3 linked regions of the Homo sapiens genome follow. The protein of the gene in region 2 interacts with the protein of the main gene of each other region in a biochemical or structural test. Each region holds a gene or a part of one and is shown on either strand. Other genes may lie near its edges.

Evidence for each region. The genes of interacting proteins can lie anywhere in the genome.
Region 1: the proteins of SREK1 (region 2) and DDX17 form a complex in vitro, tested with the Homo sapiens proteins (one study listed by BioGRID).
Region 3: the proteins of SREK1 (region 2) and SAFB form a complex in vitro, tested with the Homo sapiens proteins (one study listed by BioGRID).

The regions. Positions count from the first base shown.
Region 1 is NC_000022.11:38,496,253-38,503,828, forward strand, and holds part of DDX17 (probable ATP-dependent RNA helicase DDX17 isoform 1 precursor), read right to left. Parts: intron 5,029-7,576; coding exon 4,878-5,028; intron 3,248-4,877; coding exon 3,148-3,247; intron 2,322-3,147; coding exon 2,188-2,321; intron 1,899-2,187; coding exon 1,833-1,898; intron 1-1,832. UniProt on the Homo sapiens protein: As an RNA helicase, unwinds RNA and alters RNA structures through ATP binding and hydrolysis.
Region 2 is NC_000005.10:66,167,806-66,175,381, reverse strand, and holds part of SREK1 (splicing regulatory glutamine/lysine-rich protein 1), read right to left. Parts: intron 5,332-7,576; coding exon 5,212-5,331; intron 4,798-5,211; coding exon 4,435-4,797; intron 437-4,434; coding exon 341-436; intron 1-340. UniProt on the Homo sapiens protein: Participates in the regulation of alternative splicing by modulating the activity of other splice facors. Inhibits the splicing activity of SFRS1, SFRS2 and SFRS6. Augments the splicing activity of SFRS3.
Region 3 is NC_000019.10:5,618,075-5,626,141, forward strand, and holds the start of SAFB (scaffold attachment factor B1), read left to right. Parts: upstream 1-5,008; 5' UTR 5,009-5,131; coding exon 5,132-5,320; intron 5,321-8,067. Other genes in the region: SAFB2 (scaffold attachment factor B2), read right to left, coding at 3,235-3,322, 4,456-4,641. UniProt on the Homo sapiens protein: Binds to scaffold/matrix attachment region (S/MAR) DNA and forms a molecular assembly point to allow the formation of a 'transcriptosomal' complex (consisting of SR proteins and RNA polymerase II) coupling transcription and RNA processing.

The sequences.
Region 1 (7,576 bases), on a different chromosome or scaffold from region 2:
ACAACTCTCATTTACAGGTTGAGCATCCTAAACCCCCAAAACCAAAATGCTCCAGCAAGCATTTACTTTGAGGATCATATTGGTCCTCAAAATTTGGATTTGTTTTGTTTTCTGAGACAAAGTCTCACTCTATCGCCCAGGCTGGAGTGCAGTGGTGCAATGAAGGCTCACTGTAACCTCTGCTTCCTGGGTTCAAATGATTCTCCTGCGCCTCAGCCTCCTGAGTAGCTGGGACTAGAGGCAGGCACCACCATGCCCAGCTAATTATTGTATTTTTGTAGAGATGGGGGTTTCCCCATGTTGGCCAGGCTAGTCTCGAACTCCTGACTTCATGTGATCTGCCCACTTTGGCCTCCCAAAGTGCTGGGATTACAGGTGTGAGCCACCATGCCTGGCCTAAAATTTGGAATTTTGGATGGTCATCCTGACTTAAACTGGCAGAATGACACATTCCTGACCTCTAATTTAAGCACATCACCAGGTAGATAAGGCAAAAACAATGAAAATTTACATGTAATCTGACAAGACTGTGTACAATCTGGCCAAATAATACAAAAATCAAGGTATCATATACCATTCAAATTAAATTATGAAACTTGCTTTATATACTGATCCATTAGATATCAACTAATAATAATGCTGTCAGACATATACTATGTATTATAAGTACTGCATTATTTCTTTTTGTGAATATCTTGAGACATATTGTACATGTTCATAAATATATAGGACAAATGCAAGCTTATTTCTTAAAAAAGTTAAGTAGGCCGGGCGTGGTGGCTCACACCTGTAATCCCATTATTTTGGGAGGCCGAGGCAGATCACCTGAGGTCAGGAGTTCGAGACCAGTCTGGCCAACATGGTGAAACCCCGTCTCTACTAAAAATACAAAAATTAGCTGGGTGTGGCGGCGCATGCCTGTAATCCCAGCTGCTTGGGAAGCCGAGACAGGAGAATCGCTTGAAGCCAGGAGGTGGAGGTTGCAATGAGCCGAGATTGTGCCAATGTACTCCAGCGTGGGCAACCAAGAGCGAAACTCCATCTCAAAAAAAAAAAAAAAAAAAAAAAAAGTACACATTCAATGCCAGGCGCGGTGGCTCACACCTGTAATCCCAGCACCTTGGGGAGGCCGAGGCAGGCAGATCACCTGAGGTCAGGAGTTCCAGACCAGCCTGGCCAACATGGTGCAAACCTGTCTCTACTAAAAATACAAACATTAGCTGGGAGTGGTGGTGCACGCCTTTAATCCCAGCTACTCGGGAGGCTGAGGCAGGAGAATGGCTTGAACCTGGCAGGCGGAGGTTGCAGTGAGCTGAGATCTCGCTACTGCACTCCAGCCTGGGCAACAAGAGTGAGAATATATCTCCAAAAAAAAAAAAAAAAAAGAAAGAAGGCTGGACGCAGTGGCTCATGCCTGTAATCCCAGCAATTTGGGAGGGCAAGGTGGGCTGATCACCTCAGGTCAGGAGTTTGAGACCAGCCTGACCAACACGGAGCGAACCTCCATCTCAAAAAAACACAAAAAATCAAAACAAAAAAACAAAAAAAACCACACCAAAACCAGAAAACACTTGATTTACTGCACAGTAAATGCCCATACAGCATGCATGGTTTCTTTAAGAGTAAGACTTTGGTTCAAATGTAAGCTCAGCTATTCAATTGCTGAGTGATCTTGGGTAAGTCATTTAATTCCAAGTAAGATGAGAATGAAACCATTTCCACCTATGGAGGGTGTGGTTAAGAGTACAAATGGATAATGTAAAGCACCAAGCCTAAATAGTCGCTAAATTGTAGTTTTTCTTAGAATTACAAAGAAACTGAAACACACTTACGATTGGGCCATCTCCCCTTTCCAAGTATGGCTGGTGGTTAATATGAACAATTGCAGGCAGGAGATACTGTGGAGGGGGGAAAGAATGACAACCTTACGCTTAGAAGTACAATCTTACTTAGATACTTAGTAATTACTGAATTAATGCATAAATAGGAAAGTGAAAAACAGAACTTACCACTGCTATATACAGGAAGCAATACAAATTTGAACATAAAATGCTTCCATATATTTAATAACTAAAATAGTATCTAACTATCTGAATGGCACTTCTACGAAGAACTGAGAACGTATGACAACTAGAATAGCAAAATAAGTTACCACAATATCAAGGATCTTCTCTTGCTCATACATACCGCCAACGTCTTCCCAGAGCCAGTCTGAGCAATGCCCACCATATCCCGGCCACTAAGAGCCAACGGAAATCCCTGGCACTGAATTGGAGTTGGTTCTGTAAAGTGCTGATCCATCAACACATCCATTACATATTCTGTAAGAGAATTTTATTTTGCGTATTTTATTGTGTTTAAAGACACAAACCAAGAGTTTTTAAAAAAACTTTTAAGCTCACTGAAGATAAGATTTACCCAGCTTCATCTCTCCAAAGTGCTTTTTCTTTATCTACTAGATCTCCGACCAACTCACTGTTAGCTTCTAAGGGCCAGGCTAGGTGGCTCACGCCTGTAATCCCATCACTTTGGGAGGCTGAGGCCAGTGGAGGCCAGGAGTTCCAGACCAGCCTGGTCAACATGGTGAACCCTGTCTCTACTAAAAATACAAAAATTAGCCAGAGTGGTGGTGGGCCCTTGTAATTCCAGCTACTCGGGAGGGTGAAGCAGAATCGCATGAACCCAGGAGGCAGAGGAGGTAGTGAGCTGAGATCGCGCCACTGCACTTCAGCCTGGGTGACAACGTTGAGACTCCGTTTCCAAAAACAAACAAACAAAAGCTGCTACAATAGTCTACCTCTCCCAGAAATTTGAAAAACCATTACCCTAAAGCATCTAACAGGACATGGGAACATGGTAGTCATTTATTGTTTAGCAAATTCACATTATATCCAGCTAGAAAGCAATTTCATTCTGCTGTTTTCTAAAAGGCAGAGGGCAAAACCCTAGAAAAAGACAAAAACCTCAAAAAAACAAAACAAAAACAAAACCTCAGTCTAAATACTAGAACAGAACTGATGACCATAAAAACAATCTCTTGTCCTTTCAACAAAACCCCAAGCCTGGCTCAAAGAGTTTAACCTACTACCCTTGTCTCCCATTCAACCCAATTTAACAAATTAAGGTTCTAGATTGAAGAACACTTACGTGGGAAGTTAGCATGATGGAAGGCAAACACGGGTTTAGGACAAACATCTCCCCCCCTCACTGTAATCTCCTTCTTTCGGCGTAGCTCATCAACCTCATACTATTGAAAAAAAATGAAAGAAGTTAGTAAACTAGTTATTCTAAACATTCAGAATTTATGTTCCAAGCTAGCTGAGCAATTATCCAGTCCACAGCTATGTTGGCAAATATTTAATAGTTTACATGGTACTTTCATGTGTATCACTTTAACTCTGCAAGGCTCCTACTTACTTTGTAAGTTAATTAATGATGTAGGTGATTAAGAGTTCCATTTTCTATAGGAGAAAAAAGATAAGTAACTTGCTCAAGGTCAGAATGAGAAGGAAAAAAAAGTGGAACTTGGACCCAAGTACTCTTTCCATTACACTTTCTTCTGAAAGAGTAACCATTTCATGTGTAGAGTCCAAAAAACAATGGTAATGAGGTACAAGAAGAGACAATGTTGGCTGGGCACGGTGGCTCCCACCTGTAATCCCAGCACTTTGGGAGGCTGAGGTGGGTGGATCACTTGAGGTCAGGAGTTTGAGACCAGCCTGGCCAACATGGTGAAACTCCGTCTCTACTGAAAAAAAAAAAATAAATAATAAATGAACCAGGCGTGGTGGCACATGTCTGTAATCCCAGCTACTCGGGAGGCTGAGGTGGGAGAATTGCTTGAACCTGGGAGGCAGAGGTTGCAGTGAGCCAAGATCATGCCACAGCACTCTAGCCTAGGGGACAGAGTGAGACTTCACCTCAAAAAAAAAAAAAGCCAATCTATCTTTTTCACTAACAGATGAAAAAACATGACCTAATATACAATATTTCAATCATGTATAATAAACAGATTAGTAAGCATTATCAACAAGAGAACAAATTAAATGCATATTTAAACTGGTCCCCTTTTATGAGTATTAGGGGTCTTAGATAAGAATGTAAGAAAGGCTGGGCATGGTGGCTCACACCCATAATCCCAGCACTTTGGGAGGCTGAGGCGGGCAGATCACAAGGTCAGGAGACGGAGACCAGTCTGATCAACATGGTGAAACCCTGACTCTTGCACTCCAGCCTGGGTGACAGAGCAAGATTCCGTCTCAAAAATAAAAAGAGGCTGGGCGTGGTGGCTCACGCCTGTAATCCCAGCACTTTGAGAGGCTGAGGCAGGTCGATCACCTGAGGTCCGAGGTCCGGAGTTTGAGACCAGCCTGCCCAACATAGTGAAACTCCATCTCTGCTAAAAATACAAAAAATTAGCCGGGCATGGTGGCGGGTGCCTGTGATCCCAGCTACCTGGGAGGCTGAGGCAGTAGAATCGCTTGAACCCAGGAGGCGGAGGTTGCAGTGAGCCAAGATCACACCATTGCACTCTAGCCTGGGCAACAAGAGCAAAACTCCGTCTCAAAAAAAAAAAAAAAAAAAAAAAAAAAAATCAGCTGGGTGCAGTGGCTCACGCCTGTAATCCTAGCACTTTGAAAAGCTGAGGCAGGTAGTTTGCTTGAGCTAGGGAGTTCAAGACCAGCCTGGGGAATATGGCGAAACCCGGTCTCTACAAAAAGGAAAAAAAAAAAAAAATTAACCAAAAAATTTTTTAAGAAAAATATCACCACACTAGAATAAAATGTAAAACGGCAACAGTAGCGTATGAATAAACTCTAACCAATATATCTACTTGGTTCAATAATCTGTACATTAAAACACACATGTAAACTTACTGGTGTCAGCCTTGCTACTTCCGGATGTTCCACATAAAAATTTTTCTCAAACTTGGGGAGCTCACTCAAATCCCACTTTTTTTTACGCAAACGCTCCCCAGGATTACCAAATTTCTTCGGGGGAAGGCCACCACCACCTCTTGCTCCAAATCTAGGAACAGAATTTTTAGTTAGTTCATCAGTATTTTTAAAGCAACGTATCGTACATGCCATAAGAATATTCAAAAAGGATGGAGTTCTAGGGATACTACCAGCCTACCTCCAAAAAGACCATTTTATTTGCTGTGATTTAAAGGTATGGAGAAATGTGTAAAACCTCCCTTACTACCCAACAATAAATACTGTTTATGAATATAGCTACAATAGGCAAAAAATTAAAAATCCCTTTATTGAGAGAAATACATCCTAGGGATTACAATCACAGATTCTGGATCCAGACATGGTTTGAGTTTTTATTCTGCCACTTACTGTATAATTTGAAGAGAATTATTTAACTTCCACACACCTTAGTTTCCTATGCAAAGTAGAAATAATACCACTTATTTCAGAGGCTGCTGAGAAAATGACCTAATAATGTGTAATGTACTATAAAAGTATCTGGCATAGCCAGCACTCAGTACAAGTTAGCATCATTTCATTCAACAAATAGTTATTAGGTACCAAGTTACTAGGTACCAAGTATGTATCGGCTACTGTTTGAAGTGGTGCTGTGCTGGAGTTACTAAACAAAACAGACACAAGTCTCTATTTTTGTGTAACAGACATGCAGGCAAAGGATGACATTAAGTTAAGTTTCAATTAAAGGGAAGATTGTGGACAAGAAGGAAGATACACTCCAAGCAAGTCCCTCAATCTTAGAATAGCTTCTTGGGCCTGCTCCCCTATTAAACTGTGATAAGCACTCCACCTGTCTGCTTATCTGCAAAGCAAAACTGGGTCTTGGAAAGGACTGGTAGACTGGTCTTCATTTTTAGCTTACGCTAATAAAAGAGCTGAGCCTGCCGGGGGCAGTGGCTCAGTCCTGTAATCCCAGCACTTTGGGAGGCGGAGGCCAGTGGATCACTTGAGGTCAGGAGTTTGAGACCAGCCTGGCCAATATAGTGAAACCCTGTCTCTTACTAAAAACACAAAAGAGTAGCCAGGCGTGGTGGTGCACGCCTGTAATCCCTAGCTACTTGGGAGGCTGAGGCAGGAGAACCGCTGGAACTCGGAAGGCGGAGGTTGCAGTGAGCTGAAATGGCACCATAGCACTCCAGCCTGGTAGACAGAGGGAGGGTCCGTCAAAAAAAAAAAAAAAAAGCTGAACATAGATTTATGACCTTTCCTTCTTCTTTGATCTCTACTTTTACCTTCTATCTCCTTCTTGTTCCCAAATGGTATTATTAATTTACAGAGAAAAAAACACTAACAAGACTTATTTAAGGCTTTAACACTCAACTAATTACTTAAGATCAACTTCTTGCTTTTTATATACCTTTCACAACAGACAAGCTCAAGAGGAATACAAATATGACCACTAGCCAAAGCTAATATTTAAGAAATCAGAAGCTACTTTTCCTAGAAGAATCTTAACACTAAGATGGCCTTAATTTTCCCTATTTCGATCTTGTAAAGTACAGGTCTTTGTTTGGCATACAAACTGTATAGCATTTTCTCAGTTTCTTTACTCCTTGTAAAATATTGTACTGAATTTAGTTCCCTTTTCCCACTCTAACCCACTTGTAACTTCATCTTATATAAAGTTCCACTTTATCATTGATAGGCAAGTAGGTGTATTATTCTACAGGGCCTCAATTTCCTGCAATTCAAAGCCATTAGAACTCTGGCTTAACCAGCCAGACATTCCTCTAAATACATACGTAACAAAAATTGATGGCAGGAGATTTTATTGGGATCACTGGATACCTACACTCAACAGGCAGAACTTGGCTAATTCCATTTATACCACTACTGAGACAGTGAAGACAAATTAAGAATCAGAACAGGAAGAGCACATAGCATAGGGATACCCGTGTCAGCGACATATTTAATATGCCCCTCAGCTTAAGACTCAATACTGAACAGACCAAAAGGCCACCTCAATTGCCGCTCCCGCCACACTTGCAAATGAAGCAGCTAAATAAGGTACTTTTCAAGAGGTAGAAAGTCTTTGGATTATCACTCTTGCAAATTATAAAAGACTTCATTGTTATTGCCACATTGCAATGCTACCCAAACCTTAGTGACTTAGGAAAAAATAAAACTTGAAAGTAAGATTCCTGTTAAGGCTTTAAACTGATGATTATCATTCATGTATTTTTTTTTCCTCTCTCCTTACTTCCCTGGCTATTTATTCAAGACATTCTATTCTACACTAAACATTTAATTTGAAACATGTGGTTCTTGGAAAATATGCCGTCTTCCATGTTTATAATTAATGCTGACATAATTAATGACCTCAAAATTCAAGAAAGCCTTTTACTTTTGAGCATATCCATGCCATCTTTAAATACGCACACTGTACTCTCTGGTATACTATGCTGCTCAAATGTTTTTATCCGGTCAGTAATTAGTTTAATTTGGCTTTACAAAAAAATTCACCTTTGAAGTCATATATTAACATTAAAAACCATACTACTTCAAATGTACAATGCCTATCATTTTTGCATCACACATGTGAAATACATGAACTGACCTCACCTATTCCTTTTTCAAAATAA
Region 2 (7,576 bases):
CCTGGTAGTTAAATGACAAAACCAAGGGCACAACAGTGTGTATTCTGTGTTGCTTCTTGTATTAGAAAAAAATGATACATTCTCATCTTGTTATCTGTATATGAAACTGGAAGCATATACAAAAAAACCTCACGAAGTCATTACTTCTGGGAACAGTGTAGATGGGCAAGAGTGGAAATTAAGACTTCCTGATACATAACTTTTATCTTTAATTTCTGAATAATGCATATGTATTATTCATTCAAAATATAAAGTTTAAAAAATAAAGAGAGAAATTTAAAATTTCAAAAAATATTTATTGCTTTCTCCTGTTTAGTTTTAGCACAAGCTCCCAACCTACCTCCTGGGGGACGGAGATCTAGAAGATTTCCTTTTTATGGTTTTTGATGTTCTTGGCGATCTGGAAGAACTCCTGCTCCTCCTCCTACGCCTTTCCCTGAAAATCAAAAACACATCATTTTTAAAAACAGCAATTGAAATAAACGGCAATTCAAATATACAAAAGCAAAAGGGTCCTTGATATTCTCATATGAACAGTATTCTTTAGAGGCCAGTTTAAACTTATGTCCTTTATGAGCATGTTCAATTACCTAACTTTAGAGTGGGTCAAATTATGAACCATAAATTTTACAGACTGATGAAAACATCATCTAAGACTTCATATTAGGAAGAGTAGAAGACCTCCTCCTTTTCACCTCGTTTATTTGAACAATTTCTTCAGTAGAAAAAATATTAATGGCGTGGCGTTTCTGCTTCTCTCAAGTGTATTTTCTCAGCAGCTAAAACAAGTTTTGCTTATCAAATCCTTTGTCATGTATCTAGCTCCTTGCTGCCCCACTGTGGATTATAACAAAGTAACAGGCCCTTTTCAAAAACTGAAACATAAACTGGCTTGTAAAATGTGAACTTTCTATACCCAATTATCAACAATGTCTACTTAAAAAGCATTTACATTACTATCATTTTAGAGAGAAATTGCTTTTCCCTCCAACCTCCTATCATTTCATTACTGTTGTTCTATTAATTTAAAATTTAGTGTACAAGTTGCTTAGATGTAAGCAAAACAGTTACAATCTGAAAAGTAAATATGACAGGAATAATTATAAAATAGATTACGTTATTATTATTAAAAACCATTTTGCTTATCAGATTAGCAAATGATACATATTCTAAACTACTTCAACTCAGAAACAATGAACTTCACTAGGTCTATAATTTAAGGGATATGGTACGAGGACATACCCAATGATCTATCTCACAAGTTCTGATAATCAGTGACCACATAGCTAAAAAACCAAATCCTCTGGAATTCATGTTATCCTTACCATTTCAGGAAACTGATTCTAAGAGACTAATAAAATAATTTAAGTTTTTCATTTCTAAAATAAAAAATGCTCACACGGTATATATAATATGTATTAAAATACAAAGCTCAAGAACTCTGAGAACACAACTCAATTCTACCTCTACCTAAGACTCTCTCCTCCATTACCCACTTTTATTCCCAAGACACTCCACAATTACACTTCTAATGTGGAAATTAGATACATTATTTGATTACATCAATGACATTCTCTTAACAGCTCAGCCTAAGAACCAAAAATACTTTTTTCAAAGCATGTGAATGTCAGCGTATTCCAGACTTTAAGATTACACAAAATCGCTCTGCCTTTATCAGTGTAATTCTTTTACTTATTTGTTCAGAAAGCACTATGTACAAGTGGATGTCTAATACCTACTAGCTGACGATAATGAGAGGAAAGTCTCCATAGACAGCAATCTAGACAATTACTTGAGAAAGAAATTGTATTAACAACTAAAGTTGGTGAGATTTAGACTTAAATTTGAGTTATACACCTTACCCAGCTATACAACCAGGATCATATTACTTAACCTAATCTGTTTTTCAACTGAAAAATAAAGACAATTAATAATTCAAGTTTTATTAGGTTGTTGAGGATTTAGGATAAAATCTGTAATGTGCAAAGCATAGAGTGTGACACAGAGTAGGTGCTCAATAAATATTGTTTTTTCCTTCCCTTTCTTGGTATCACCTTTAATGACAGTAAATTTAAGCATTAAAAAATTATTTAATATCATTTTCTTTAAAAGTATAAATTAGGAGACAATGTTAGAAATAAAAATATTAACTATTTTTTGAACAGTTAAAATATTCTCCATTTAGTAAACAAATCAGAACATTTGAAAAGCAGAAAAATGCTAAAAGACAAGAAATTGTAACTCTTGGCTGGGGGCGGTGGCGGCTCACGTCTGTAATTCCAGCACTTTGGGAGGCTGAGGCGGGTGGATCACCTGAGGTCAGGAGTTTGAGACCAGCCTGGCCAACATGGTGAAACCCCATCTCTATTAAATAAAATACAAAAATCAGTTGAGTGTGGTGGCACACGCCTGTAATTCCAGCTACTCAGGAAGCTAAGGCAGGAGAATCGCTGAACCCAGGAGGCAGAGGTTGCAGTGAGCAGATATTGTGCCACTGCATTCTAGCCTGGGTGACAAAGTGACACTCTGTCTAAAAAAAAAAAAAAAAAAAAAAAAATTCAAAGAAATTGTAACTCTTTACCAAGCTCTTCTGAAAGCATGAAACATTCCAAACTGCTGCCTTTATAAACTAATGTCAGTCATCTTTTATTCTCAAGGCCCCAGTTGTTACTGAAGAATGTATTTGAGCCAGGTGCAGTGACTGATGCCTGTAATCCCAGCACTTTGGGAGGCCAAGGAGGGCAGATCACTTGAGGCCAGGAGTTCAAGATCAACCTGGCCAATATGGTGAAACTCCATCTCTACTAAAAATACAAAAATTAGCCAGGCATGGTGGTGCACACCTGTAATCCCAGCTACTCGGGAGGCTGAGGTACAAGAATCACGTGAACCGAGGAGGGGGAGGTTGCAGTGGGTCAAGATCATGACACTGCACTCCAGCCTGGGCGATGAGCAAGACTCTGTTTCAAAAAATATATACATATATATTTAGGAATGAATGTGAACACTTGAACTTTCCTCTACACCAAACAACTTAAAATGGCCCGAGAAAAAGTTAAACATTCCCATGTCATCAAAAAAAGTAAATTCGTTATTAAAAAGGAATGAAAATAGTATTTGGTGCTGTGAAAGGTAATGTCTAAACAATCACAGAAACACAAAGGCATGTGTGACACAGAATCAATAAAATCACTTTGCAGTAAAGGTGTGGTTACAAGGCTCAAACCAGTACCCACAGCAAAGGAGGTTACATTAATTCTTCAATCTGTGGTTCAATGTGCTGAAATCCAGCAGTGATCTGTTTATTTTGAGCCTTGTTTTAACATATACTACTGCTTTCAACTTTATGCTTCTGAGGTAGTTTTTAAAAGTAAGTACAAGTACTAGAGAATTCTCAAACTTAATCTCTAAAATAAAGGAAAAGGGCTACTATACTTCTCATACAGAGCGTCAGCTTCCTCATGTTTTAAAACAGTGATGATAATAATCTTCTCCCAGGCCTGTTGTGAGGATTAAATAAGGTGAGACATGAAAAAGTCTACTGACATCATGTCTGGCATACAGTAAAGTGCACAATAAATGTCTACGATTATCTTTTATTATCTAGTCAAAGGCTGGTATTAAAAATAAACTACTAAAGCACAAGTTTTAAAAATGGGAAACATATATTCCTTTATCTCAAATTATTTTCTATTAAAAAACCATCTTTAAAAATCTTCAAAAATTTGCTAATATATATATTTAGTATTTTTAAGATAGTGTAGTATAAGTTAGGAACTTCCATTTACAGTCATGGTATCATCTGAAGTAAAGGATGTGGGTTTAGATAATCTTAAATCTCAAAAGTTGTTCTCATTGTACAGCTGTTACTATGGCAACTTGCTGCCACCTGGTGGTAGTAAAGCTATTAATAAACTGAAATCACGGTCCTAAGGAAAAACTCTAACCCTTAAAACTGACAAAATAAAACACGACCAAAATTTAAATGTTATGCACTTAACAAAATAAGGATAAAAATTAACTTAGGTGACAAAGAGGGCTAACACTGCAACTTCAGCAATCATTTTACATATTAAAATTAATCACACCATTCAAAAAAAGTTCAGGAAAAAGCCTAAGACGCAAATTCTTAATGTGCTTTTTAAAAAAAGTACCTTTCCCTGCCATCCCACCCTCTAAGAAAATAACAATTATTATTATTCTATTAAAATAGTGGTTACAAAGAATAGCTAAAACTCTTCAAATAATGTTGCCCAGTATCATCTCTTTCCCCACTCTGCTAGAGAAATGTTTACTCTGAAATTAGGAGAAAATGTTCTTATATTACTTTACAGGTTCCACTTGCGTACAGTAACCTTTTCTCCCTCCGTAAAAAATTTTGTTTCCAATTGTCATCAGCAAATCCCTTTGTAAAAATTTTAAGCATTATCAAACCTGCTGGAACTACGAGATCTTCGCGATGCATTGTAACTCCTGGGTGGTGTTCTGGATTTTTTATCCTTCTTTCTTTTTTCATCTATCTCTTTGGATCTGTCTTTTTCTCGTTCCTTTTCTTTGTCCTGTTCCTTTTCCTTCTCTTTGTCTCGATCCTTCTCATGCTCTTTTTCCCGTTCTCTCTCTCTGTCCTTTTCCTTGTCTTTTTCCCGGTCCTTTTCCCGTTCCTTGTCCCGGTCTTTGTTTTTACCCCGTTCCTTTTCTTTTTCACGTTCCTTTTCCCTCTCTCTCTCCTTTTCCCTGTCTTTCTCTTTCACTCTTTCCTTTTCCTTGATCTTTTCTCGAGTGTCTTTTCTCTTGTCCCTTTAAAAACAAAAATAAATAAATTCATAACTAAAATAGTTCTACCTCCTCCAAAAAGACCTCTCTCTCTTCAACAATTACCAACACAAGACAATTTATAGTACCTACAGACATTTACATATACATTTTTATATAGCTCAGGTGTACAAGAAGCTGCTAAACAAAGCTATTCATACTACGCAAGCTGAACTGAGTAGTTTGGAAACCTCATGAGTCACACTGACATCAGATTCAGATCACTGGCAATCAATATTAATCCTAGATTACTAAAACAATAAAAAAGGTTTAATTTCTCTCATTAAAAACCTAAACCACAACAGATTTTTAACAAATGAAGCCAATTAAAATATTATCCCTTAGCACTAACAGAACTCTGAGGAAAAAAAAATTATTGTTAATTTCTCTAAAACTCACCGTGAATGCGAACGACTCCTTGACTTCCGTCTCTCCCTTGATTTAGAGCGTTTTTTATGTGGGCTCTTAGATCTACGTCTGTCTTTCTGTCTTGAACGTGATCTATTATGGGATCTACTCCTAAAGAAAAAAAATTGTTAGAATATCAAAACTTAATTTACGATCTTTCAAACAAGAAAATTTAAAATCTATCCTAACAGTATTTAACAATATTTTAAAAATTTCTCTTAAATAATACTTTAGTTACATAATCTGAAATACATTTACTGGAAACTTTACCGGATATTTCATTGTCTAGAACAGAGACAGAAACAAAGAATTTAACAGTTATTTCGTATATTTTCAGATGTGGCTTTTGCTAGTCATTTTATGCCTCAAATCAGTATAGAAGATTTTTCCCTGTTGACTTGCATGTAATCTGGTCATAACACATCATGACAGGGAGTAGTGGTTACGTGGTTGAGTAGTTCCTGTGAATGTGTGCTGTCTGTCATAACAAACAAAAAGAATATATAAAAGGAAGCACAGTCCTAATGACAGCGCCACTGTGACAGGAAAATAAAAATCATTACTCATAAGTTAAAACTAGATATAATCAAATATTGGATTTGCAATGCCTTGATTTTATAGCTGTAACTATAATCATAGCTACCAGTTGAGTATCCCTTATGTGAAATGCTTGGAACCAAAAGTGTTTTGAATTTCACATTTTTGGAGATTTTCGAATATTTGCATTCTATATATACACACGCATAAAACTGGTTGAGCATCCCAAACACACAACTGAAAAATCCAAAATGCTCCAGTGAGCATTTCCTTTGAGCATCACGAAAGCGCTCAAAAAGTTTTGAAGCCTTTTGAATTTCAGATTTTCAAATTTGTGAGTCTCAACCTGTATGAAAAGAAACTGTTAACTGCAGGAAACGTTTAATTGCAGGAAAAGTAACTGTTATTCCAATTTGGACTAGGCCCCCTTTCTCACTGAAAAAGTTTTTTGAGAATGTGATTTTTTTCATAACGAGGTATCCTAACTGCTTATTAAATTGTAACAAAACAGATGTACACAACTTAAATAGCAAAGTGATTAGACTCAACAGCTTTGGAGTCTGACAATCTGGCTCTGAAAGTCAGCTCTGCCACACGCTACCTGTGAGAACTCTGGCTAGTCACTTAACCTCTCCAAGCCTGAGTTTCTTCCTCTATAAAGTGGAGTAGCAATCATACCTGCATCTCTTAGGGCTGTCATGAGGATTACAACTGATGATGTATGTAAAACTGCGTAGTATTCTCTAGCACAAAATAAATGTTTAAAAATCTTAACTCTCAATGTCATCATCATTAAAAGTTAACATAAATGTAAACTTTATATCCTTATGTACGTATTCCAAGGAAGCTGAATGAACTTCTATAAGTATCCTTTATACAGCTAAAACTCATCTTGATAGTCATGTTTTAATAAATTTAGAACAATTATCAGTAAAAGAAATATAGTTGGGCTGGGCACAGTGGCTCACACCTGTAATCCCAGCACTCTGGGAGGCCGAGGCAGGTGGTACTTGAGGTCCACCTGCCTTGAGGTCAGGATTTCAAGATCAGCCTTGCCAAACATAGTGAAACCCGTCTCTACTAAAAATACAAAAATTAGCTGGGTATGGTGGCATGCACCTGTATTCCCAGTTACTGAGGAAGCTGAGGTGGGAGAATCAACTGAACCCGGGGGGCAGAGGTTGCAATGAGCTGAGGTCGCTCCACTGCACTCCAGCCTGGGCAACACAGCAAGATTCTATCGCAAAAAAATAAAAGAAAAAAGAAAAAGACCATGTTTTGTGGTATGCTTTGAAACCAGAAAAACCTCCAAATAATCCTCATTAATAACAAAATCTTTTGTTTTTAAACACATTTTTCAGTTAGTCAAAATTCTGATTAAAATACTAATCAACATTACAAATCAAAATTTCAATAGCTAATTTCCATTTAAACTACTCATCTACTATTTGGCTGTAAAAATAATATACAATTGTCTTCATTCCATATTTTTTTTTTTTAGCCTCACTTGGTTCAACATACCACATTATTTTTTATTTTATTTTTTTCCAAAGACCCTAGATAAGAAATCACATACCATGTTTTTAATACAAGAAGATAATTCATAGCTTGCTGAAATCTTTATCACTAGTACTTAAGAGCCATGAAAGTTAAGGAGTAGATGTTAAGGCAAAACTGCAAAACTGAGAACATTATTAGTCCGTTTACAGATATCCACATAGGGTAATCTTTTAAAGTGCCTTTGCTTCTACATACTTAATAAAAAGTCTTACTATAAGATTTCTGTTTTAAGTTGTCCTTGCTAAAAATATAATTCTTT
Region 3 (8,067 bases), on a different chromosome or scaffold from region 2:
TTGAGGCTGCCACGATCATGCCACTGCCCTCCGCTCTGGGCAACAGAGTAAGACCGAGTCTCTCTAACATACACACCGATAAAGAAAAATCAAACAGAAAAAAATACATACTTTCCCGTCTCTACTAAAAATAGAAAAACAGCCGGACGTGGTGGCGGGCGCCTGTAGTCTCAGCTACTCGGGAGGCTGAGGCAGGAGAATGGCCTGAAGCCGGGAGGCGGAGCTTGCAGTGAGCCGAGATTGCACCACTGTACTCCAGCCTGGGCAACAGAGCGAGACTCCGTCTCAAAAAAAAAAGAAAGAAAATTAAACATAAAAAACCTGCAGGGTCTACACCTCAAGAGTCTCACTCACCACTATTATCAATAATCACTCAAGAAATGCAGTTTAATTGCATGTCTCGCAACGTGAGCTTTTTCCAGTCTATCATTTAAGACGCCTAACAACGCTAGCAGGTTTTATTATCTGCATTTGACACGAGAATTTGGTTGAGCTCCAAAGCTGGCACTCTAAAACTCAGCTGTCCCACTTCGCATTATATCTAAACACAGCATATCCTTTTGAAATACGTTGTCTAAAAATGTTTGGTAATTGCACCCAATTTCTAGGCCCCTAAATAGTAGCCTGCAGTGCCCACATAGGCCGGAAATAGGAGAAATGCTGACCAAAAAGCATCACAGAAAAGCTAATGTGGCGCAGACAGGCGACGCCCCAATCCCCGGCACCTGGCATTGGCCAACGAAAAGCTGCCGCTGCTGGGGACACAGATGTAAGAAAATCCAACTTTAATCCCACATGGCATCTAAAACTTAAATTTTTAATCCAAGTTTTATTTTTTCCAAACCCACCTACAATGTTGCCTAGGACTCCTAATCTTGGTGAAGACCCTTACTCTGATTTATAATGAGGACACTTTTCCCTCAACAAGTTTGGCTACTTCAGTTTTTGCAAGGAAGCAGTTACTGGTGAGTTCCCAGAATGAGTCCAACTTTGGACTCAACTGAACACTGCTGCATAGTGCTTGAAACGAAAATTAACTGGTGAATTCCTCCTGATCTAACAGTTGTATGTAATCACAGGCCCTAACTGCAACCACAAAGTCCTAAGGCTCTTGTGCTTTATCCATTAGCCACGTGCCCCGACACCTCTAGAGAACATCACCAGCTCAGGATGGAAGATGAGGCCTGCAGGGCCTGAGCACCACCTGAAGACCTGGGCTCTCTCTGGGCTTGGTTACTTCTCTGAAAAAGGAATGGGAAGGGATCAGAAGCCCTTCTAACCCTCACTAGAGCTGAGGCTACAAAAGTCCTTTTTATAGCAACAGAAGAACTTTATCATCCAAGCTTTCCTGACAAAACACTAACTCCAAGTAGTTTTGAATCCACCTAAGCTTTAATCTAGACATTCAGGCAGGTCTTCAAAGCACTCAGCTAAAGTTTAGTTTTTCTAATGATGCAAAGATCATTAGAAATGATCCCTGCTAGGCCGGGCACAGTGGCTCATGCCTCTAATCCCAGCACTTTGGGAGGCCCAGGCGGGTGGATCACCTGAGGTGAGGAGTTCGAGACCAGCCTGGCCAACATGGATGGTGAAACCACGTTTCTACTAAAAATATAAAAAAGTAGCTGGGCGTGGCGACGGGCACCTGTAATCGCAGCTACTCAGGAGGCTGAGGCACAAGAATCACTTGAACCCGGGAGGCGGAGGTTGCAGTGAGCCAAGACCGCACCACTGCACTCCAGCCTGGGCAACAACAGCAAAACTCCATCGCAAAAAAAAAAAAAAAATCCCTGTTAAATTCCTGCTAAAAGCCAAGGATATTTTGAGTAGTAAGTCTTGAACTTTACAGTTTTAAAATGAGCACCTACATAAAAAACTTTTAAACTTTATTGTTAAGCAGTTTTCCCAACCACTAAAAAAAGAAAATTCACATCATGCATAAGTTAACACCTAAACAGAAGAGATAAACTATATTTCCTGCGTAGACCAGTCTCTCACATTCTGAATGTGCTCAGGCTGGGCCTTCTAGGTGAAATACGGACACTCACAAGAACAGCAAAAACGCATCCATGTGTCAAAATTAAACTTTAACTTAAAGCTCTTATGCAACCTAACTAAAAGATTTAATCTTTCAAACTACATGCACATGTTTTAAACAGTTAATGTGTTATGAAACACATTAAGAAGAAAAAGCTATTAAAAAAATGAAATTGTTAAAAATGCTACAATTTCTTTCTACTTTCTAAGCACTGATCCTCCACTGCCTGAATTTAGCACTTTTCCAAGAAAACAGGCCCCCTGCACAGGAAACCTAAATTATATTATCCTTATCACCATAAAACCTAACAATACCAACTGGGATAGTCAAAGCTTCAAAGTTTTATGGAATTCAATGCTTTCAAAAATAACTGGTATCAGCCATAAACAGGAATGAAGTATCAATACATGTTACAACACAGATGAACTTTAAGCATTATGCTACGTGAAAGCTGATGCAAATGGCCATATGTTGTACAATTCCATCTACATGAAATGTCCACAATAGGCAAATCTATGCGGACAGAACATGGATTAGTAGTTGCCAGGGGCTGGAGGGAGAAAAGTAAGGCGACTAACTTCTAATGAGGACCGGGTTTCCTTTTTGGGTGATGAAAATCCAGAAGGAGACGGTGGTGGTGGTGGCAGAGCCTTGTGTATACACTAGGAAGCACTGAATTGTACACCTTAACCTGATGAATTTAACGGTCTGTGAATTAAACCTTCACATTCAAAAACCGTAATAGTAAAAAATAGGCTGAGTGCAAATACCCCAACAATCTACTTTGGACCCTAGCAAAGCTGAGTTCTATTCGGTCTCAGGTTGGTGTCCTTTTCTTTGGGTTAAGACCTATTTTTTGAACCAGGAAGGAAGCCAAGTAGGTACATTTGGTTCCTCAGACCCGTAGAAGTAGCTTTAAGAGCTTGTCTTTCTCTAGTTGACTTTTAATCCCAATGGCAGAAGCTGAAACGTTTTTCGTATATTTTAATTGCACTTGGCACCTGTACATCTCTTTCCTCCTCCCTGTGCCCTTGACAGAGCTACCTGTTAGGTGGTGACGAGCAAAGCTAACTCTTAGTGGAGGGACACCGAGTACCAGAGAAATTCTCCCAGCCTAGAAGGCGGGAAGAGCACACTACACACCATTTCTCTAAATTCTCTGAACACTCAAGCCCCAAGCAGCATATGTACAATACCTTTAACACATCTCTTGGCTGACTTCTTGCTGGTGGCTTCTAACTCGATGCCAATTTCATCAGGATCTTGCCCCTCTTCTTTAACCGCCTATTAGGGAGAGATGAGTTTTACAACATCATTAAGAGCTGCAGGGCACACACTGTTCCTTACAAGTAACAACCTCCCATGAAACAAAGGCAAACCCGTCCTTGCAAAGAGCAACTCCGGGTCAGCTATCTGGGCCGCAAGCCCAAAAGGCGGAGGAGGAACCCCGCACAACTTGGGTCTCTCTGGGTCCAAATGACAAAGGAGAGGGAGGCTGTGAGCAGGAGCTCCAGAATTGGGGTCAAGGACCAGTTCCAAAATGGCAACTCAACTCGACAATGCCAAACCTTCGACTTTAAAGTTATATGATGGGACAAATTAGAACAGAGAGGCTGCACTTGGCCCGGCCTCGGTGAAGGGCTGGCCACCGCTGGTGAGGAGGAACAGCAGCCAGCCTGGGGAGATTCAACAGGTCCCTCAGTGCCTGCCACCTGCCGGGTCCAGGACTGGGTACCCACAAGCTCCCTCCCTATGCTCAAGTTGTTTGTTCCAGTTGCGGAAACAGACAATTCCCAACCCCTTAATATTTTGCATTTAGCCCCTGCTTTCAGCGAGGTGCGACACAAACGCAGGATGAGCTGGCAAGGAGGTGGGGCAGCGCATTAGGAAGGGCGCTCAGGAAGGTGATGTCTCAGGCAGACCCAAAATGACAACAAGGGGCCGGCCACGAGAAGATCTGGGGGACCCGGGTGGACAGCTTCGTAAAGGCCAAAGCCCTGGGGCAAGAACAAGCACCGCCCCCTTTCCTGTAAATGCTCTGGAGTCCGCCAGACACCCATTCTCCGGAGGAGGAAACTGAGGCACAGAGAGAAAGGCACCTGCCCAAGGTCACAGAGCCAAGGCTCGATCGGGAGCCCCAGGAGGGGTCCCGGGGCCACCCTGGTAGCGGAGAAGACCGCACGCTGAGCGCGCTTGAGGAGAAAAGGTGGAAAGAGGATAGGAAGGGAGGCACAGAGAGGAGCGGTGACGGGCCAAGGTCACACAGCCGGCCCCCTGGGTGCCCGACACCTCGAACCGGGGTCGGCCAAGACGCGGGGCGAACCCAGGGCGCCCCGGGTCCGGGAGCCGCGGTGACAGGTGCAGGCGGGGGCGTGCCCGGGCCTCCTGCGCCACCCCCGAGCCCCGCGCCGCCTCACCTTCTTGAGCCGCTCCATCAGGACGCTCTTGTTGCCGCCCGTGTCCAGGTTCCGCTTCTTCAGCTCCGCCCGCAGATCGATCACCCGCAGCTCGCTGAGCCGCCTCGTCCCAGTCTCCGCAACGCCCGGGCCGAGAGAAGCCGTGCCAGGGCCCGAGTCGCCCGACCCGGGCAGAGTCTCCGCCATCGTCGCGTTCCCGTCTTCGCCACCGACTCAGTCGCACACCGCCGGCAGCTATAGCGGCTCTGAACACAAAATGGCGCCGCCTAAGAGGAAAACGCACTCGTTTCCTCCCGCCCCGCTTTGCGGCCGCGCACGCGCACGCGCACCGCCCCCACTAGCGTACTTAGCAGCAAGGACGCTCGCGCGTCCACCAACCGCGGGTTCCCCGGCACAACGCGCAAGCGCTGAATCTGCAGCTCGCATGCGTCCCGGCAGTTCCCGGCGGGAGGCTGACGAGACGCAACGCGTCTGCGCACATCCCCGCGTTGTTCTCACTGCGCATGTGCAGTTGCAACCGGGATACTAGAACCTACGCTTGGTGCGCCTGCGCAGAAGCGAGGCGCGCTGGGGCGACTGGAGCGGTTCCCTCGCAGGCGGCGCCATTTTGTGCTAGGAGCCTGATAAAACCGGCCCGGTTCTGTGGAAAGTGGGCGGCGGAGCCAGGGTCCCTGGAATGGCGGAGACTCTGTCAGGCCTAGGTGATTCTGGAGCGGCGGGCGCGGCGGCTCTGAGCTCCGCCTCGTCAGAGACCGGGACGCGGCGCCTCAGCGACCTGCGAGTGATCGATCTGCGGGCGGAGCTGAGGAAACGGAATGTGGACTCGAGCGGCAACAAGAGCGTTTTGATGGAGCGGCTGAAGAAGGTGGATTTGGGGCCCCGAGGGCGGGCACAGGGTGGGTCTGGGGTCCTCTTGGCCGCGACGGTGGCTCGCGGGCCCTGGCGTCCGCCCCCGGCCGCGTTCGCGGCCTCGCCGGACCTGGCGCTCTCGCGTCCCCCGGCTCCTCCGAGGCCCCGGAGAGAGTTCCTTGGCCGGCTGGGCCTGGGTTCAAATCCTAACGCCGCAATGGGGCCAGGAGAACCACAAAAACGGCACGCGTGCAGGAGAAACGGTGACGGGTGACATCGTCCACTGAGAGGAGGGTTCTCCCCTCGTCTCGTCCCCTCCTCCGTACCTGGAGGGGAGACCCTGAAACCCTCACTTCCCAGGCGAGGGGAAGGGACTCGGCCAAGGTCACACGGCCGAGGACGGGCAGCGTCGGGATTTGAACCCAGGCCCTGGGATTCCTGATTCGGCTGCTTGGTTTCCCCAGGGAAGATGCTTTGTGACCCACAGGGGACCGACCAGCCTGAATCGGGGCTGATTTACAAAGGAAACACCCGTAGGACATACTCAAAGGGAAAAATAGAAAAAAACCCACCACAATCCAGTTTTCACGGTTTGCCGGTACTCGCTCGGTGAAGTAACGTGGCAGGAAGGAAAAGTGGTGTTGACGGTAGTGATCAGAAATGTGAAATGAGGGGAGACCCCGGGTGGACTTTAAAACCAGCCTCAGAACTGCCCGGGAGGCGGGCAGAGCCTGGGCTCCCCCAGCTCCGTCAGTCTCTCTGGACTTGGGGACCCTGCCAGCTCTCGGTGGCCTGATCTTGGGCATAGGAGACCTTGAACCCCTTCTGAGTCCTCTTTTCTATTCTTTTTTTTTTTTTTTCTCCTGTAAGAAGCAAAAAAGCAATAGGACTTTGATTTGGGGATTAAATAAGTTTGCGTGGAGCAGGCTTGGCGTGCTGCCTGGCGCATGTAAACACTCGGTGTGTGGTTGCCATCACGATTCGCTTTTCCTCTCTGTGCCACCACGAGTCCTCATTTGCAGATCGGGGGCTCTAACGCCTCCCTTGGGGGATTCAAAGGGATCCCTAGGAAAAGCAGAGAGGCAAGTAAAGGTTAGCCACCTGCGGTTTCCTTATTCCTGTAGCTTTTTTTCTCTGCCTTTTTTCCACCTGGCTACTCTGGGACCTCTCCCCTGTAGTTGCTCCGCCTGGCCGCCCACCCCCCAGCCCCTGCAGGCAGTGGGGCTGTTGACACATCCCACCATCCTGACTCCGGAACTACGGAGATCACAGGGCTTTATTATTAATTGGTGATGAGAAGAAGTAGGGATTTTTTTTTTTTTTTTTTTCCTGATGAGAAACCCTGGGCTCAAGGGTGGATAGTTGTCTCGGCCAGAGTCACATGGGCCTTTTAAAAGCTCAAGCTTGTGTTTCTTTTCACTATGGATTCTCTTTACTCAGATAAGGCAGGAAGCCCACTGATCTACATATTTACCCAGAGAAAATGCAGAGAGTGGAGATTGGCGGCTGGTCAGGTGTGGTGCCCCGCCACCAGGGCCTCCCATCAGCTAAGCCAAATTAAGAGGCTTTATCCTTTTTTTCTCCCTGGACGGTCCATAGGCCTGAAAAGCTGCTGTGATCTTCCTGTCAAGCTGGTGACTGAGACTTCCCATCACTCGCTGTCATCTCTGAGAGCACAGATTTGTTCCTTCTTCCTTCTCCTTTTCATTTTCTTCAAGATGTGGTCCCAAAACACGAATACCGCCAGCCCATATCCCTGTCTGCCACTCACCCAAGCCAGTCTGGAGTTCCTGATCTCATTCTCTTCCCGTTTCTGTCATCCTGTTGGTGTCCCTTTCTTGGTTTATTTTTCCAGGAAGGGCAAAAGAACAAAAAGGGGAAACAGGACACCTGCCTAGGGCATTGCTTCTCTTCTCCTGGTGGTGTTTCAGAATTGCCTGTCCCCGGGAAAAGGGTGAGGGACTTGGTGATTGTACTTTTCCTTGATCCCAGGAAAGAACTTCAGTCCCTTTTCTGGCTTCTGAGAGGAGAGATTTTTGTTGCTGCTGGTAAAGATGAGATGTGGAACCCCCAGGCCCTATCTCAATTCAGACTTACCCACCTGGGAAACTTGGAGGCTTCCAAACCTCTGCAGATAAAACATAGTACATGAAATGATGTAAACAAAACTTGTGCTCATGGGACTGGAGAGTAAAGACTGGAAAAGTTATCAGTAAAACTTGACCTGAAGCTAAGTTTCTAGGGACGTCATCGTGATTGACGTGTTCGGTACTGATGGCTTAGTTGATGCCAGGCACTGTGCTGAGGATGGGCATAGTTGAAGTGAGTGACAGAGTCCTGGGGTGGGAGGCTGGGCGTGCCAAGAAATTCTTATAATTCAATATCCGATGAGGCACAATCACCTAGTGGTTGAGAATGAGGTACTGGAGTCGGTTGTGAATGTACATGATGGGGATCGGATGAGGTCATGCATGTCGTGACGGGTCTCGTGCGTAACACATAGTAGGATCCCAGTCAGCGAGCATTAGTATTCTGTCCACACAGTACTGAGTACAGGCACGGCGTGGAGGGAGTCCCTGGAGGGTTAAAGAGTATTTTGTGAGTAAAGTCAGGGGAAATGGAGAGTGTGCCTTTCCCTTTTTGAGTTCTTCTGGGCTTAGGAAGGAGATGAACCAGATAAGCCTACTGTTTGTTGAGTGCTTCCTTTTCATGGCTAGTAGAGTCCTCACAACAGCCTTCCAGGGTAAGTACTGTATTATTATT